Linked DNA regions of Homo sapiens: region 1 is linked to region 2. A link means that fine-mapping ties the variant in region 2 to the expression of a gene that starts in the linked region. Tissue or cell type: blood mononuclear cells. Region 2 holds a variant in brackets; the other region holds the start of a gene. All regions are shown on one strand. Distances are from middle to middle.

What was found. PIP is the estimated chance that this variant, and not a neighbour inherited with it, causes the effect.
Region 1: FRAT1 starts here. The variant in region 2 is fine-mapped to the expression of FRAT1 in blood mononuclear cells (TOPMed, PIP 0.97).

Annotation. Positions count from the first base shown.
Region 1 is chr10:97,315,790-97,323,890 of GRCh38, forward strand. FRAT1 (FRAT regulator of Wnt signaling pathway 1) reads left to right here and starts at 3,482. Exons shown (of 1, transcript NM_005479.4): 1 at 3,482-6,126. The coding sequence starts at 3,665. The coding sequence ends at 4,504. RefSeq lists enhancers at 2,796-3,585, 3,323-3,617, 4,707-4,866 and silencers at 3,457-3,766, 4,267-4,366.
Region 2 is chr10:97,385,685-97,393,785 of GRCh38, forward strand. It overlaps RRP12 (ribosomal RNA processing 12 homolog), which reads right to left. Exons shown (of 34, transcript NM_015179.4): 4 at 8,000-8,076; 5 at 5,055-5,160; 6 at 4,739-4,855; 7 at 2,805-2,940; 8 at 2,568-2,695; 9 at 211-309. It also overlaps the pseudogene RPL34P20. Among named protein-coding and RNA genes, the nearest start is that of RRP12, 12 kb to the right of the region's middle. The variant T/C (reference allele first, on the strand shown) is at 3,355.

The DNA.
Region 1 (8,101 bases), 70 kb before region 2:
TCTTCTGATGTTTTCCCCACCGTAAGTTACTTTCCCTGTTCTAGAACTTCATATAAACAGAAACATATGACATATATCCGTTTTTATCTGGCTTCTTTCACTTAGCATACTGTTTTTAAGCTTCATTCATGTTACTGCATGCAGCAATATTCAGTCCTTTCTGTTGCTGAACTGTTTTCTGTCATCATCCTGTGTGAATGTACAATAGGTTGTTTGTCCATTCACCTGTTGATGAACACTTGGGCCATTTCACTTTTGGCTTTTATGAATAAAACTCCTTTGATGTGAGCCAACATCGTGCCACTGCACTCCAGCCTGGGCAAAAGAGGGAGACCCTGTCTCAATTAAAAAGAAAAAAAAATATGCTATGATCACCTCCCTGTAGGCCTTGATGTGGGCCCATGTGTTTATTTCTCTTAGCTAAGTATCCAGGATTGAAACTGTGTTCCAGGACAGGTGTATGTTTCATTTTATAAGAAACTGTCAGGCCTTTTTCCAAGGTGGTTGTACCATTTTTCATGCCCACAACAATATATGAGGCTTATAAGTTGTGAGCCAAAGATAAAAATGCACAAATTGTAAACTGCTACTAATTATTTTCATTTGAAAATTTTAAGTAGGCCGGGTCTGGTGGCTCATGCCTGTAAATCCCAGCACTTTGGGAGGTCGAGGCAGGCGGATCACCTGAAGTCAGGAGTTCAAGACCAGCCTGGCCAACATGGTGAAACCCCATCTCTACTAAAAATACAAAAATTAGCCAGGCATGGTGGTGCACGCCTGCAGTGTCAGCTACTTAGCAGGCTGAGGCAGGAGAACTGCTTGAACCCGGGAGGCAGAGGTTGCAGTGAGCGAAGATTGTGCCACTGCACTCCAGCCTGGACAACAGAGCAAGACTCCATCACAACAACAATAACAACAACAACAACAACAACAACAAATGCCCAACAAACCAGGAATAGAAGGGAACATTCTTAACCTGATAAATACTATCTATGAAAAATCCACAGCTAACATCCTACCTAATGTTGTGAAAGACTGAATGTTTTCATCTAAGATCAGGAATAAGACAGGGCCAGGTGCTGTGGCTCATGCCTGTAATCTTAGCACTTTAGGAAGCTGGGGTGGGCGGATCGTTTGAGCTCAGGAGTTCAAGACCTGCCCGAGCAACATGGTGAGACCCCCTGGGTCTACAAAAAATACAAAAATTAGCCAGGCATGGTGGCTTGCACCTGTAGTCCCAGCTACTCAGGAGGCTGAGATAGGAGGATCAACTGAGCCTGGGGAAGTCAAGGCTGCAGTGAGCAGAGATCATGCCACTGCACTCCAGCCTGGGCCACAGAATGAGACCCTGTCTCAAAAAAAAAAAAAAAGAAAAAAAGAAAAGAAAAAAGAAAAAGAAGAGAAGCAAAACTATCTCTATTTGTAGATGACACGATCTTCTATATAGAAAATCCTAAGGAATCCACAAAAACAAGGTGATGAACCTTATGACACCCTGTAGAAATCCAGATTTCGTAGATTAGAAATCCAATGGCTTTGTTTAAACTGTCTCTTCCTCTGTTTTTACATTTTTTCCTCCACACTTGACAAAAACAAACCCAACTCTTTTTAAACCAACTTCCCTACCTCTTTCCTGCACTCATCCCTTCCTAAAGGTTTGCTCCTATAATTATTATCGTTGGAACTGCCCAACAAGACCCTCGTTTTCTATTTATCTGGATCTCCAGGCTCATTTCTTTCTTTGTATCCTATTTTCTATATCATGCTCAGAATTTTAAAGTTGCTTCCAGGCTGGGCGCGGTGGCTCATGTCTGTAACGCCAGCATTTCGGGAGGAGGGATTGCTTGAGTCCAGGAGTTTGAGACCGGACGGGCCAACATGGCGAAACCCTGTATCCACTAAAAATACAAAAATTAGCCAGGTGTAGTGGCGCGTGCCTATTGTCCCAGCTACTCGGGAGGCTGAGGTGGGAGGATCACCTGATCCTGGGAAGTCAAGGCTGCAATCAGCCAGATCACACCACTGCACTCCAGCCTGGGTGACAGAGTGAAATTCTGTCAAAGAAAGAAAAGAAAGAGAAAGAAAAGGAAGAAAGGAAGGAAGGAAGCGTATCTCCATTTTCATCCAAACAGGTATTTTTCTCTGCTACTACGTACCTCCTCAGAGCCCATCCCCCCTACTGGTCTGAGGCTTTTTTTTAAACAACTTTCTGGACATAGCCCCTCTTAAGACTAACAACCTATAGCCAGGCGTGGTGGCTCACGCTTGTAATCCCAGGATTTTGGGAGGCCGAGGCAGGTGGATCACCTGAGGTCGGGAGTACCAGACCAGCCTGACCAATATGGAGAAACCCCATCTCTGCTAAAAACACAAAATTAGGCTGGGCATGGCGGCGCATGCCTGTAATCCCAGCAACTCGGGAGGCTGAGGCAGGAGAACTGCTTGAACCCAGGAGGCGGAAGTTGTGGTGAGCGGAGATTGCGCCATTGTACTCCAGCCTGGGCAACAAGAGCGAAACTCTGTCTCAAAAAAACAAAACAAAACAAAAAGAGTAGCAACCTAGGCCGGGCGCAGTGGCTCACGCCTGTAATCCCAGCACTTTGGGAGGCTGAGGCGGGTGGATCACCTGAGGTCAGGAGTTCGAGACCAGCCTGGCCAACATGGTGAAACCCCGTCTCTACTAAAAATACAAAAATTAGCCGGGCGTGGTGGTGGGCGCCTGTAATCCCAGCTACTCGGAAGGCTGAGGCAGGAGAATTGCTTAAACGCAGGAGGCGGAGGTTGTAGTGAGTGGAGATCGAGCCACTGCACTCCAGCCTGGGCGATAGAGCGAGACTCCGTCTCAAAAAAACAAACAAACAAATAAACAAAAAGACTAGCAACCTCCTCTCCAGCAATGCCAACCCCAGTCCAGGCCCCCATCCGCCCAGGATCTCGATCAAAAAACATTAATCTGTGGCCTTTCTTTGCCATTTCCAACTCTGCCACCTCCATCGAACGACAAGGTCCCCTTCTTCCTTTCCATTCCCGTCAGCTTCATTTCCCTAATCTCCGTACAAATCCCTAGCCTGACTCCCTTTCCTTTCCATCCTCACCAGACGCCCGCATGCCGGACCTCAAAAGCGCAAACGCTAAAAACCGGTTGAGTTGACGCACGGAGAGAAGGGGTGTGTGGGTGGGTGGGTGTGTGTTAGTGTGCGTGCTTGCTTGTGTGTGGAAGAAACCAACAGGGTTCACGCTGGTGCCCATTTCTGGAAATGCCAATCGCGCCCGACTGCGGGAGCCAGGATCAGGTCCCCAGGGCGCCCTTGCAGACAGCACCCTGAGCGAAGGAGCTCAGAAGGCAGTCCGGCTTCACCCAGACCCCCAATCCCACAGAAGCGCCGTCCCCCAGCGGCACAGCACCCCCTCCCCGGCGCGGTGGTAGGGCCCGACGTGACGTCACCCATTGTTTACAAATCAACCCGAGCCGGCAGGATTCCGGCTCCCGCGGCTGCAGGCGCGCGGCTAGAGTGCCTGGCGGGCTCCGGCTTCCGCGTCCGCCCCGGCCCCGGTCCAGACTTAGTCTTCAGCTCCGCGCCCGCTCCGCCGCGGCCCACCGCGCCCGCCGGCAGCCGAGCCCCCAGCGACGCCCGCACAGCTCCGGGTGCCCAGACAGGGGGCCATGCCGTGCCGGAGGGAGGAGGAAGAGGAAGCCGGCGAGGAGGCGGAGGGGGAGGAAGAGGAGGAGGACAGCTTCCTCCTACTGCAGCAGTCAGTGGCGCTGGGCAGCTCGGGCGAGGTGGACCGGCTGGTGGCCCAGATCGGCGAGACGCTGCAGCTGGACGCGGCGCAGCACAGCCCGGCCTCGCCGTGCGGGCCCCCGGGGGCGCCGCTGCGGGCCCCGGGGCCCCTGGCTGCGGCGGTGCCGGCGGACAAGGCCAGGTCCCCGGCGGTGCCGCTGCTGCTGCCGCCCGCGTTGGCGGAGACTGTGGGCCCGGCGCCCCCTGGGGTCCTGCGCTGCGCCCTGGGGGACCGCGGCCGCGTGCGGGGCCGCGCTGCGCCCTACTGCGTGGCCGAGCTCGCCACAGGCCCCAGCGCGCTGTCCCCACTGCCCCCTCAGGCCGACCTTGATGGGCCTCCGGGAGCTGGCAAGCAGGGCATCCCGCAGCCGCTGTCGGGTCCGTGCCGGCGAGGATGGCTCCGGGGCGCCGCCGCCTCCCGCCGCCTGCAGCAGCGACGCGGGTCCCAACCAGAAACCCGCACAGGCGACGACGACCCGCACCGGCTTCTGCAGCAGCTAGTGCTCTCTGGAAACCTCATCAAGGAGGCCGTGCGAAGGCTTCATTCGCGACGGCTGCAGTTACGTGCAAAGCTTCCCCAACGCCCGCTCCTGGGACCTCTGTCGGCCCCGGTGCATGAACCCCCTTCGCCTCGCAGCCCTCGCGCGGCCTGCAGTGACCCTGGCGCCTCCGGGAGGGCGCAGCTCAGAACTGGCGACGGCGTTCTTGTGCCTGGCAGCTAACACGCCCGGGGTGGCCACAGCGCCAGCCTCAGACTGGAGGGCAAGGGGTTCCCTTGAGGGCTGCAGTTCTACTCAGGCTGGTGGAGAACTCTGGCTTTTGGAAGCGAGAGTAAAAAGCTAATGACGAGGAACCGAAAAATCGCGAGTGTTTCGCGGGTAACTGGGGTTGAGGGCCAAAATATTTGGAATGAAGGACTTTGGCCCTATTTAAGGCAGATTTTACAGAGCGCACCTCAAACGTACAAGTCAGTAGGACTCCTTATTTGGCGTGACCCGACCTGGCCGCGGAGCCTGCATTTCCTCGCAGCCTCTCAGTGCCCTCCAGCCCCGCGACCATGTGGCCACAATCCACGCTTCTCCGGATCGCGGTGCGCCGGAACCACGGAGGATGATGCCAGTTACTTGCTTTACCTTTTCAGGGCTGGCTCCTGATCCACTTTGGGGGAGGAGAACATGAGTAGATAATTTCAGGGTGCAGCCCAATCTGCCAGACTTAAAAAAACCATCTTGTGTCTTTGGAGGTGCTGCTTAATACCAAACATGCGGTGCCATGAAGGGACCCTTTGGGGGTTGAATAGGAGTTAACCCCTGCGCTCTCTTTGCAACTGTCTCTCTTCTCAGAGTGGTGGGGGAAGGCTGTACGACACGGGTGGGGAAAGGAGGTGGGGGCGGGGAGTATTGAATGGTGGTGGAAGGGTAGAGAGGCGCGGAGTGAACCCCACGCCCTGTCTAAAGTGTATTTTCAGAGCCGGCCCGCCTCTCCTCGGTTCAAGGTCACTGTTTCCTGGGCACGCACTGGGTTGCGGGACAGAGTAGCCAGGTTCTGCCGGTGCTCGGAGAAGAGCGCAGTGTTTTGCAAGTGCTGGAGTCTCCTGAGGACACGCGCGTCGCCGCCACCGCGGGTGTGGGAAAGCGCGGACGTGCTGGGCGGCTGTGCTTCGGTAGGCGACCACCGCCCCTGGCCGCGCTCCGGGCTTTCACGGAAACTCCCGAGACCGGGCCCTGGGTTCCTCCTCTCCTACTCGGCTCTGCAGTCCTACTCAAGCGGGTGGCTCTGGGATCCTGGGGGCCTGGGTTGGGGGCTAGGGAGACGCCATGTGATGGACACTCCAGGGACACACAGCCTAGCACAGCAGCTTATAATGGGCTCTCCGGGGCCATTTGCAATAACAGCTGCAATTCCCTGGATAGACGAGTTGATTTCCTCCCTCTGCCCCTCCCCCAGCCATGCCAGCTGGCCTTTGTAAGTGCAGGAAACCGAGTAGAAAATGTGACCCTCCAAATGGAGAAGCTGCAGGCTTTGCCATTGTGAACCATGGTGAAGTGCTTGGAACATACTGTTCACTCACTCTAAAGGCGCTGAGACTGTGCTGTTGTTCTCGTTTTTATAGTCAATGGCTTGTTCATCATCCAGATGTGGCTACTGACATATCTACACTTCGCACCGGAGTGTCTGGAATTGTGGCTATCCTGATTATAGGATTTTAACTTAACTGAAATGCCTGCTTTGAATAAATGTGTTGGGTTTTTTGTTTGGTTTTATTTTATACTTGCCATCAGTGAAAAAGATGTACAGAACACATTTCTCTGATCTCCATAAACATGAAAACACTTGAAATCTCTGTCAGCCTGGCTTGTGGATGGTAATTAGAGCGCCTTTGTGTCTGAGCAGCTCACTAGCTAGACAAGGTCTCCGCAGCTGGGTGTGTATTGGAGCTGGCATGAAATTAAATGAAAGTGAGGTCAGGTTTTGGACCAATCCCATTCGTTAAAACCTCAGAGCCTTTTGGATTACTAGTCAGTGATGGAGATGTGTTATAAAGCTGCCTCTATTAGCAAAGGACATCAGATCAGCCAGTCACTGCAAACTGGGAGGCTTATCTTTTTTTTTTTCTTTTTCTTTTTTTCTTCTTTCTCACCGTGGCCATTAAGTGCACTTGTTCCACAAGGTGGGCCTTAAGGCTGGGGCAGCTCTTGATTAGGAGACTGCTCACAATGTGAGCCTGGTGGTAGGAAAGCTGGGTGGAAACTTACAAAAGACTCCTGTCTTTGCCCCTGGCACATTTATACCATTCTGTCCCTAAGCAGTGACATAACAGGCCATGTCTATCCTTATGGTTCTGACTTACTTCAGTCTGTTCCCTCATGGAAGGAGCTAATTTCCTCCCTCTGAGGAAAGAGTACCCAGAGTTTAAGCCCACTTCTGAAGTGGGAAGGGAACCTTGGACAAGTTGCTCTACCTCTGTGGCTTCAGTTTCCTCATCCGTACAACAGGGATAATGAAATAAAAGGTGGGCCAGGCCCAGTAGTTTACACCTGTAATCCTAGTAGCACTTTGGGAGGCTAAAGTGGAGGATTGCTGGAGCCCAGAAGTTCAAGACCAGCCAGGGCAACATAGTGAGACCTCACCTCTCCAAAAATAAATAGATAAATGGCCGGGCACAGTGGCTCATGCCTGCAATCCCAGCACTTTGGGAGGCCAAGAAGGGCTGATCACGAGGTCAGGAGTTCAAGACCAGCCTGACCAACATGGTGAAACCCCATCTCTACTAAAAATACAAAAATTAACTGGGCATGGTGGTGCATGCCCATAATCCCAGGTACTCAGGAGGCTGAGGCAGGAGAATCGCTTGAACCTGGGAGGCAGAGGTTGCAGTGAGCTGAGATCGCGCCACTGCACTCCAGCCTGGGCGACAGAGCGAGACTCTGTCTCAAATAAGATAAAATAAAATAAATAAATAAATGAGGCAAGAGGATTGCTTGAGCCTAGGAGTTTGAGGCTGTCGTAAGCCATGATTGAGCTACTGCACTCCCACCTGGGTGGCAGAGCAAGACCCTGCCTCAAAAAAATAAATTAATAAAAGGCATATGGTGACTGGCACATGCTGCAGATGAACAGTATCTAGTCCCTACCCCTTCCTTCCCAGGTGGCGGTGTCCCAGGTGTCCTCATTTTCCCACAAAACAAGAGCATGCCATGATCCCAAATCTGCTTTCTGGAGTGTTCTATGACTTCGAGTCCTGATTTTCTAACTTCCTTTTTGGTTCAATGCCCCATTTTCTCAAATTCACACACAGACGCTGATGGTCTCTGAGGAGTACCTTCAGAACACACCAAGCCTGCCATTTCCCACAACATGCCCAGAAAGGGCTGTGGGGGCCTCAGTCCAGTGTTCTCCAGCATGGGAAGGGTAACTATGGAGGCTCTAATACAAACTGAGGAAAAGGAGCCCCCAATAGTGTAGTGGGCACCACCTCTGGGCGCTGAGCATGAGGGGAAAGTGGCCAGGTGCTGATGTCCCCTGGCATGGGAGTAGCCCTGAAGTCCCCAGTTCCCATTCTTAGTTGATGTACGATTTATCCAAGGTCAAGGGGTTATGAGCAATCCAGGGCTTTCCATCCTGAAATAGGCTATGATTTGATGTCACTGCACCGACTGTGCATAGCTTCTTGTAATAAGAATGACTGGTTAAGTTCAGACTCAACCTTAGGGCCCATGCAGAACAACCCACTCCTAAAAAAGGAAAATTGGGAAAAACTAAAGCCTCTCTACATAAAGCAAGTTAGCACTCTAAACACATTATAATCCAGTAACCGT
Region 2 (8,101 bases):
AGGGTCAAGGTCCCAGCTCCTGGGGACACTGATGTGAATTTGATGGCTGGTCTCCAATCTTCCTTCCCCTTCTACTGGCCTCTTCCACTAGGACAACCCAGCCCAGCCAACCTCACTCTGTAGACAAGGCGCAGGGCCAGTGCCCCCAGCACAGCCTCCCAAGGCACCACCCCCGACCTAATGCCCCCACATCCCACCAACAGGCCTCACCGTGATGATCTGGGCGTTGAGCTCTGCTGACAGGGTGCTCAGGCCAGGCCTGGCGTGGAAGAGGCTGTGAAAGGCCTGCATGGCACAGGCTGTCACCAGCTGGAGGGGGACACACAGGCTTAGAAAGGAACTACAAAGCCCACGGCTGGCCCTGGACCCCTCAACTCCACCTGTGTGCTAGGGAGTTGAGGGCCCCCTGAACCTCACACATGCCCCCCACACAGAGACACCCTGAGGACTGCCACCTTAGTAAGACATGGAAGCCACTGAAAAAGCTTTAAATGTCTTAAACAAAGATAGAAACATTAACAAAATGGTTTTAACATAACAGCCAAAAAAGCAGGCTATAAACGGTCTGTTACAGCTGTATTTTTTTTTTTTTTTTTTTTGAGACAGAATCTTGCTCCGTTGCTGGATACAGGGGTGAGACCAATACAGGTGCATGCCACTGTGCCTGGCCAATTTTTTAATTTTTATAAAGACAGAGTCTCGTCTCACTATGTTGCCCAAGCTGGTCTCAAATTCCTTGCCTCCTGCCTTAGCCTCCCAAGTGCTAAGGTTACAGGTGTGAGCCACTGCACCTGGCCTTTACATGTTTTATCATGTATATTTGTTTATCCAAAGAGAAAATGTCTGAAAGGATACCCAGAAAGTTATTTGCACTGTCTACCTTAGGAAACAGGATTTGGAGGGAAGGAGATTTTTACTTTATACACTTCTGAATTGTTTTTCCCTTTTAAACAATGATCATATTATTTATATTTTACAATTTTAAAAATATGTATGTAAATAAACACTACAAGAGAATATACAAGGCCGGGTGCAGAGGCTCACATCTGTAATCCCAGCACTTTGGGAGGCCGAGGTGAGTGGATCACGAGGCCAGGAGATCGAGAGCATCCTGGCTAACACGGTGAAACCCCGTGTCTACTAAAAATACAAAAAACTAGTCAGGTGTGGTGGCGGGCGCCTGTAGTCCCAGCTACTCGGGAGGCTGAGGCAGGAGAATGGCGTGAACCCGGAAGGCGGAGTTTGCAGTGAGCCGAGACCACGCCACTGCACTCCAGCCTGGGTGACAGAGCGAGACTCCATCACAAAAAAAAAAAGAGAGAGAACACACAGTGAGTTGGCGGGGGTATCTGTGGGGGATTGGTTCCAGGACCCCCCATGGACATAAAAATCTACCAATGCTCAAGTCTCTATATTAAATGGTGTAGTATTTCCATATAACCTACACGCATCCTCCCATACACTTTAAATCACCTGGATTACTTATAATACGTAATACAATATAAATGCTATGTAAATAGTTGCTACACTCTGTTGTCTAAGGAATAATGACAAGGAAAAAAAACTGTACATGTTCAGTACAGAAGCAACCAACCATTTTCTTTTTCCTGAATATTTTCTTTTCTTTTTCTTTCCTTTTTTTTCTTTTTCCTTTTTTTTTTTTTTTGACATGGGGTTCTTGCTCTGTTGCCCAAGTTGGAGTGCAGTGGCATGACCATGGCTCACTACAGCCTCAACCTCCTGGGCTCAAGCAATCCTCCCACTTCCACCTCCCAAGCATCTGGGATTATAGGCGCGTGCAGCCATGCCCAGTTTCCAAATATTTTCAATCCAAGGTTGGTTGAATTTATGGCTGTGGGAACCACACATACAAAGAGCTGACTGTATAAAGATTTACAGAATTGTGCTAGAAATGGTAGAAACACAGGAAATCATTTTTCATGTGTCTTTAAAGCTGCTAAAAAAAAAAAACTCGACCGGGCGCAGTGGCTCACGCCTGTAATCCCAGAACTTTGGGAGGTTGAGGCGGGCAGATCACCTGAGGTTGGGAGTTCAAGACCAGCCTGATCAACATGGAGAAACCCCATCTCTACTAAAAATACAAAAAATTAGCTGGGCGTGGTGGTGCATGCCTGTAATCCCAGCTACTTGGGAGGCTGAGGCAGAAGAATCGCTTGAACCCGGGAGCCAGAGGTTGCAGTGAGCCAAGATCGCGCCATTGCACTCCAGCTGTGCAACAAGAGCAAAACTCGGTCTCAAAAAAAAAAAAAAAAAAAAAAAAAAATTGGTATAGGGTACATAGAGCTGGTGCAGAAGGAGGGTTTACCAGCCCACTACAGATCCACCCTGACTCTGACCTGATCTCTGAGGTCAGCTTCCATCTGGAAGGGGACTCTGATATGGCCTGGCCTAGCCAAACACCACAGAGTAACGTAGTGCTGTTGGTTTTAGCTTAAGAACACAGTCAGGGAGGGAGACCCCAGGCCCTGCATTTTGACTGACCAGTGAGTTCCCCAAATGCCACCACTGCAGGTCCCCCTTTCTCCAGCTTTTGGGCCTGAGCTCACCACATGGCTCAAGGTCATGACCCTGAGGAGAGTCTCACTGCAGCTCTTCACCAGGCCTTCCGGGAAGCAGGGCAGCAGGTCCTTCAGCAGCGTCAGCATGTGCAGCGTGGTGGTGGCCTCCTTGGAGCCTGGTATACAGAAGAGGAATTGAGACACCAGCCCCGCCCTACCGCAGGCCCTGTCCTGCTCTGCCAGCCACTGCCTCCCATCCACCTGCCCTCCATTTGGGTTCCCCACCTCCAGACTTCTCAATCTCCTGGATGCAGAACTTGGCAGTGGAAATGGCAGCAGGATGATGGGCAGGGGCCTTTTCAAACATGAATTCACTGCCCTTGAGGACTGAGCATACTCCATGCTGGGCAGCCTTCCGGATCTGAGGGGCAAGGAGAGCAGGAGACAAGGCCAGATCAGCGTTCCACCAGCATCTTGGGTGTCCGGCACAAGCACCAACCAATTAGCTTTGGCTGAAATATAGATCCAATGATGATCTGACTACTATAGATCCAGTGCTACACCAGGGCCTTCATGTGTACAGAATCCTGAGCTGTGAAGCAAGACAAACCTCAGTTCAAATCCCTGCTCTACAACTAACTCACCAAATGGCCTTAAGCAAGCCCAACTACTTAATTTCTGAGTTTCAATATCATCTTGAAAACAGGGGTTTCTTCATTCACTTAATCATCCGGCAAACACTGTGTGTCCACCAAGCCAGGCACTGTTCTAGGTCCTGGCAAACTGGCACTGAACAGCAGGCAACTCCCCTTCCAGCTGGGAGGCAGAAAACAAA[T/C]ACATAACAGAAGGTTAAAAAGTACTTTGCAGATAACCAAGCAGGGGCTGCTACTTTTGTTGTTGTTGTTTGTTTGAGACAGAGTCTTGCTCTGTAGCCCAGGCGGAGTGCAGTGGCGGATCTCGGCTCACTGCAAGCTCCGCCTCCCAGGTTCACGCCATTCTCCTGCCTCCGCCTCCCGAGCAGCTGGGACTACAGGCGCCCGCCACCACACCCGGCTAATTTTTTGTATTTTTAGTAGAGACGGGGTTTCACTATGTTAGCCAGGATGGTCTCGATCTCCTGACCTCGTGATCCGCCCGCCTCGGCCTCCCAAAGTGCTGGGATTACAGCCGTGAGCCACCGCGCCCAGCCAAGGGGCTGCTACTTTTTATACAGTGGTCAGGAAAGTGTCACCGCAGTGAAGTGCCACTGCAGCGAGAGCTGAAGGTGAGGAAAAGATCATGTGAGCACCGAGGGAAGGGGGCATGAGACCATCTGGGCTGACGGTGCTTAGCACTGGGAGTGATTACATGACTGTTATTGTTACCACCTCCTGCCCTAAATTTCCAGAGGAAACAGTGGGGAACCATCACTCACCAAGCACCTGCCGTGAGCCAGGAGGTGCGCCAGGCCTGTGGGGAACACTGGAGTCTCCCCACAACTCTGTAGCAAAGTAGGTGTGATTATCTCTATTTCTTTTTTTTTCTTTTGAGATGGAGTCTCGTTCTGTTGCCCAGGCTGGAGTGCAGTGGTGCAATCTTGGCTCACTGCAACCTCTGCCTGCTGGGTTCAAGCGATTCTCCTGCCTCAGCCTCCCGAGTAGCTGGGATTACAAGCACCCACCACCACACCTGGCTAATTTTTATATTTTTAGTAGAGTCGAGGTTTCACTATGTTGGCCAGGCTGGTTTCAAACTCCCGACCTCAAATGATCCTCCCACTTTGGCCTCCCAAAGTGCTGGGATTACAGGCGTGAGCCACCACATTCAGCCAATTATCTCTATTTCATAGTCAGGAAGTTGAGGCTCAGAGAGATTAAGTAACTTGCCCAAGGTCACACCTCGAGCAGTGAATTCAGGATCCAACTCAGGTCTGTGTGACTCCCCCAACTATGCCACCCTCCCTGCCGAGGTAAATAGACATATGGGGAGAGTCCACGTCAACAGGGCAATGGCTGATGAGGCACCAGAGACTCAGATAGGGCTGACAGGGAACAGCCTCCTGGAGGAGGAAGAGCCGCCCTGCCTTCTGCATCTAAATGCATGGTGCCTCAGAAGCAGAAAGCAGAAGCCAGTACTCAGGGCAAGCTCCCCAGTGCCACTCAGCTAGCCAAGTCTGGGCTGCACTGGGCTGAGTGGTGGCTGTCCCCTTGCCCCATTTTCTAGGGAGCTAGTAGTCTCACCTTGGGCTTGGGATGCACCGTGAAGCTCAGCAGCCCATGGTACACCTGAAGGGTCACGGGGTAGCCCCAGGCCTCCAGGTCTTGCTTCCGCAGAAGGGTGGCCAGGCAGGAAAGGACCTGGAAGAAAGTCAGAGTCCCTCAGTGCCACCAGCCTCGGCCAGGAGGGAAAAGAGCCCAGGTTCTCACTGACTCCAGAAAATCGCATCTGTCTGAGGTCCCCAGGGTGCCTAAACCCCTCTCAGGGAACATCTAAGCATCACCAAATCAGACAGGCTCTGGGAGTCGCCAGATGAGAAACTAAACCCCAGACACTAACCCATCGGAGGACAGAGGTGGAGCCGCTGCTGGCCTGAGCTGACATGATATCCATGAAGGCTTTGGAGGTATCAGAGAACTTCTTAATAAGCACAGGGCTGGGAACACTGTGGGAAAGAACAGAGATGGTCACCCCAGAGGGTCCCTGAAGAGCAGCTGGTGCAGCCCCTCGTGGTACTAAGGAGGACAGGGCAAGGGGCGCTGGTGGCACAGTCACTCAGAAAGTGAGCAACAAAGTCAGAATAGGCACCCACCTTATCAGCCAGCTCAGTGTGCTTTCCACCCGGGATCCCTGCCTCTCTCACCTTCCCACTACCCACTCCTAAACTCAGGACACCAATCCTCTCTCCACCTCCCCTGGCAGTTCACATCTCCAGAAAGCCTGGGGCCAACTACTCCTTCCCTCCCTTCTGCCACTCACTGCTCCAGGAATGCCCCTTCTGGGGGCCAACACTCACACTCCCTGGTATAATGACCCAGTCACCCAGGACCTTATGTTGTAGAATGCCACCTGATATACAAGTATCTTTTAAATTGTATTTTAAAATTTCTGGCCAGGCATGGTGGCTCACGCCTGTAATCCCAGCACTATGGGAGGCCAAGGTGGGCAGATAACCTGAGGTCGGGAGTTTGAGACCAGCCTGACAAACATGGAGAAACCCTGTATCTACTAAAAATACAAAATTAGCTGGGCGTGATGGCGCCCGCCTGTAATCCCAGCTACTTGGGAGGCCAAGGCAGGAGAATCACTTGAACCCGGGAGGTGGAGGGTGTGGTGAGCTGAGATTGCACCATTGCACTCTAGCCTGGGCAACAAGAGCGAAACTCTGTCTCAAAAATAAATAAATAAATAAATAAATTTCTAATTGTGGTAAAATACACATAAGATAAAACATCATTTCGGCCGGACGCAGTGGCTCACGCCTGTAATCCCAGCAGTTTGGGAGGCCGAGGCGGGTGGATCATGAGGTCAGGAGATCGAGACCATCCTGGCTAACACAGTGAAACCCGGTCTCTACTAAAAATACAAACAATTAGCCAGACGTGGTGGCGGGCGCCTGTAGTCCCAGCTACTTGACAGGCTGAGGCACGAGAACGGTGTGAACCCAGGAGGTGGAGTTGCAGTGGGAGGAGGTGGCGCCACTGCACTCCAGCCTGGGCAACAGAGCGAGACTCTGTCTCAAAAAGGAAAAAAACAACACACCATTTCAACGATATTTTTCGGTATATCATTCAGTACTGTTAAGTATATTCATGTTGTGGGTTTTTTTTTTTTCTTTTTTTGGAGACAGGGTCTCACTCGTCACCCAAGCTGGAGTGTAGTGGCACAATTAGGCTCACTGCAACCTCTACCTCCCAAGTAGTTGGGACTACAGGTGCATGCCACCACGCCTAGCTCATTTTTGTATTTTTTTGTAGAGACAAGGTTTTGCCATGTTGCCCAGGCTGGTTTCGAACTCCTGGGCTCAACAGTCCACCTGCCTCAGCCTCCCAAAGTGCTGGGATTATAGGTATGTGTCACCACACCCAGCCAAGTATACTCACATTGTTGTGCAACCAATCTCAAGAACTTTTTCATCTTAAAGAATCAAGGTTTTTTATTTTTTACTTTATTACTTATTTATTTATTGAGATGGAGTCTCACTCTGTTGCCCAGGCTGGACTGCAGTGGCTTGATCTTGGCTCAATGCAACCTCCACATTCTGTGTTCAAGTGATTCTCCTGCCTCAGCCTCCCAAGTAGCTGGGATTACAGGCATGTACCACTACACCTGGCTAATTTTGTATTTTTAGTAGAGATCGGGTTTCACCATGTTGGCCAGGCTGGTCTCCAACTCCTGGCCGCAAGCAATCCTCCTGCCTCAGCCTCCAAAAGTGCTGGGATTACAGGTATGAGCCACTGCGTCCAGCCATGACTTTTAATTTTTATTACTCAAAACAAATTTCATTTTCTTTCTATTTTTTTTTTTTTGAGACGGAGTCTTGCACTGTTGACAGGGCTGTAAGTGCAATGGCATGATCTCAGCTCACTGCTACCTCTGCCTACTGGGTTCAAGCAATTCTCCTGCCTCAGCCTCCCGAGTAGCTGAATTACAGGCACCTGCCACCATGCCCAGCTAATTTTTGTGTTTTTAGTAGGGACGGGGTTTCACCATGTTGGCCAGTTTGGTCTCGAACTCCTGACCTCAGGTGATCTGCCCACCTCAGCCTCCCAAAGTGCTGGGATTACAGGCGATCTGCCCACCTCAGCCTCCCAAAGTGCTGGGATTACAGGCGTGAGCCACAGCATGTAGCCTACCCAGCTAATTTTTATATTTTTAGTAGAGGCGGGGTTTCACCATGTTGGCCAGGATGGTCTCGATCTCCTGACCTCTTGATCTGCCTGCCTCGGCCACCCAAAGTGCTGGGATTATAGGTGTGAACCACCGCACCAGGCCAAAAAAGTTTCATTTTCAATAGAGCTTTCTGACTCTGCTTTTGCCTTCAACACTTTCACAATGATTTTCTGCTCCTCAATAAGGAAAGCACACTTGATTCTGTCATGAACACACTGAGCACACATGGAACCAGGGAAGCACTGCAGGCCCTATAGACATGCCTTTTGTTTTGGACTATCAAATAACAACTTTAGATCTCACAGCACGAGCTCCTGAATGTCTGCCTGGACACACACCACGTGAAGATTTTGGTGCTTTCCCAACCTTCTTGGCATAAAGGTAAATGATTCTATTACCAGGGGTTCAGGACAGCCTAGTTTAGTTAGAGTTTCTCACTAGAGGCCTACGACGGTATGTCACATGCTGGCCCATTCTGCATGCCTCTAGACAATGTTCATGAAGAGCAAGTATCTTTTTAAATAACAATTCCCTGATCCTGTTTCTCCTGTCCACATTCCCTTCTCCCCTCCACAAAAAGCCTTGGGGTTCAAACAGGAGGCAGAACTCACCGCTTCAGGACAAGGTTCAGCAGGTAAGCAACGGCGGCCAGGGACTCCGGGGACTCCACTGCTTCCATTGTTGTCATCTGAGGGCCAGATTGAGGGGGTTTG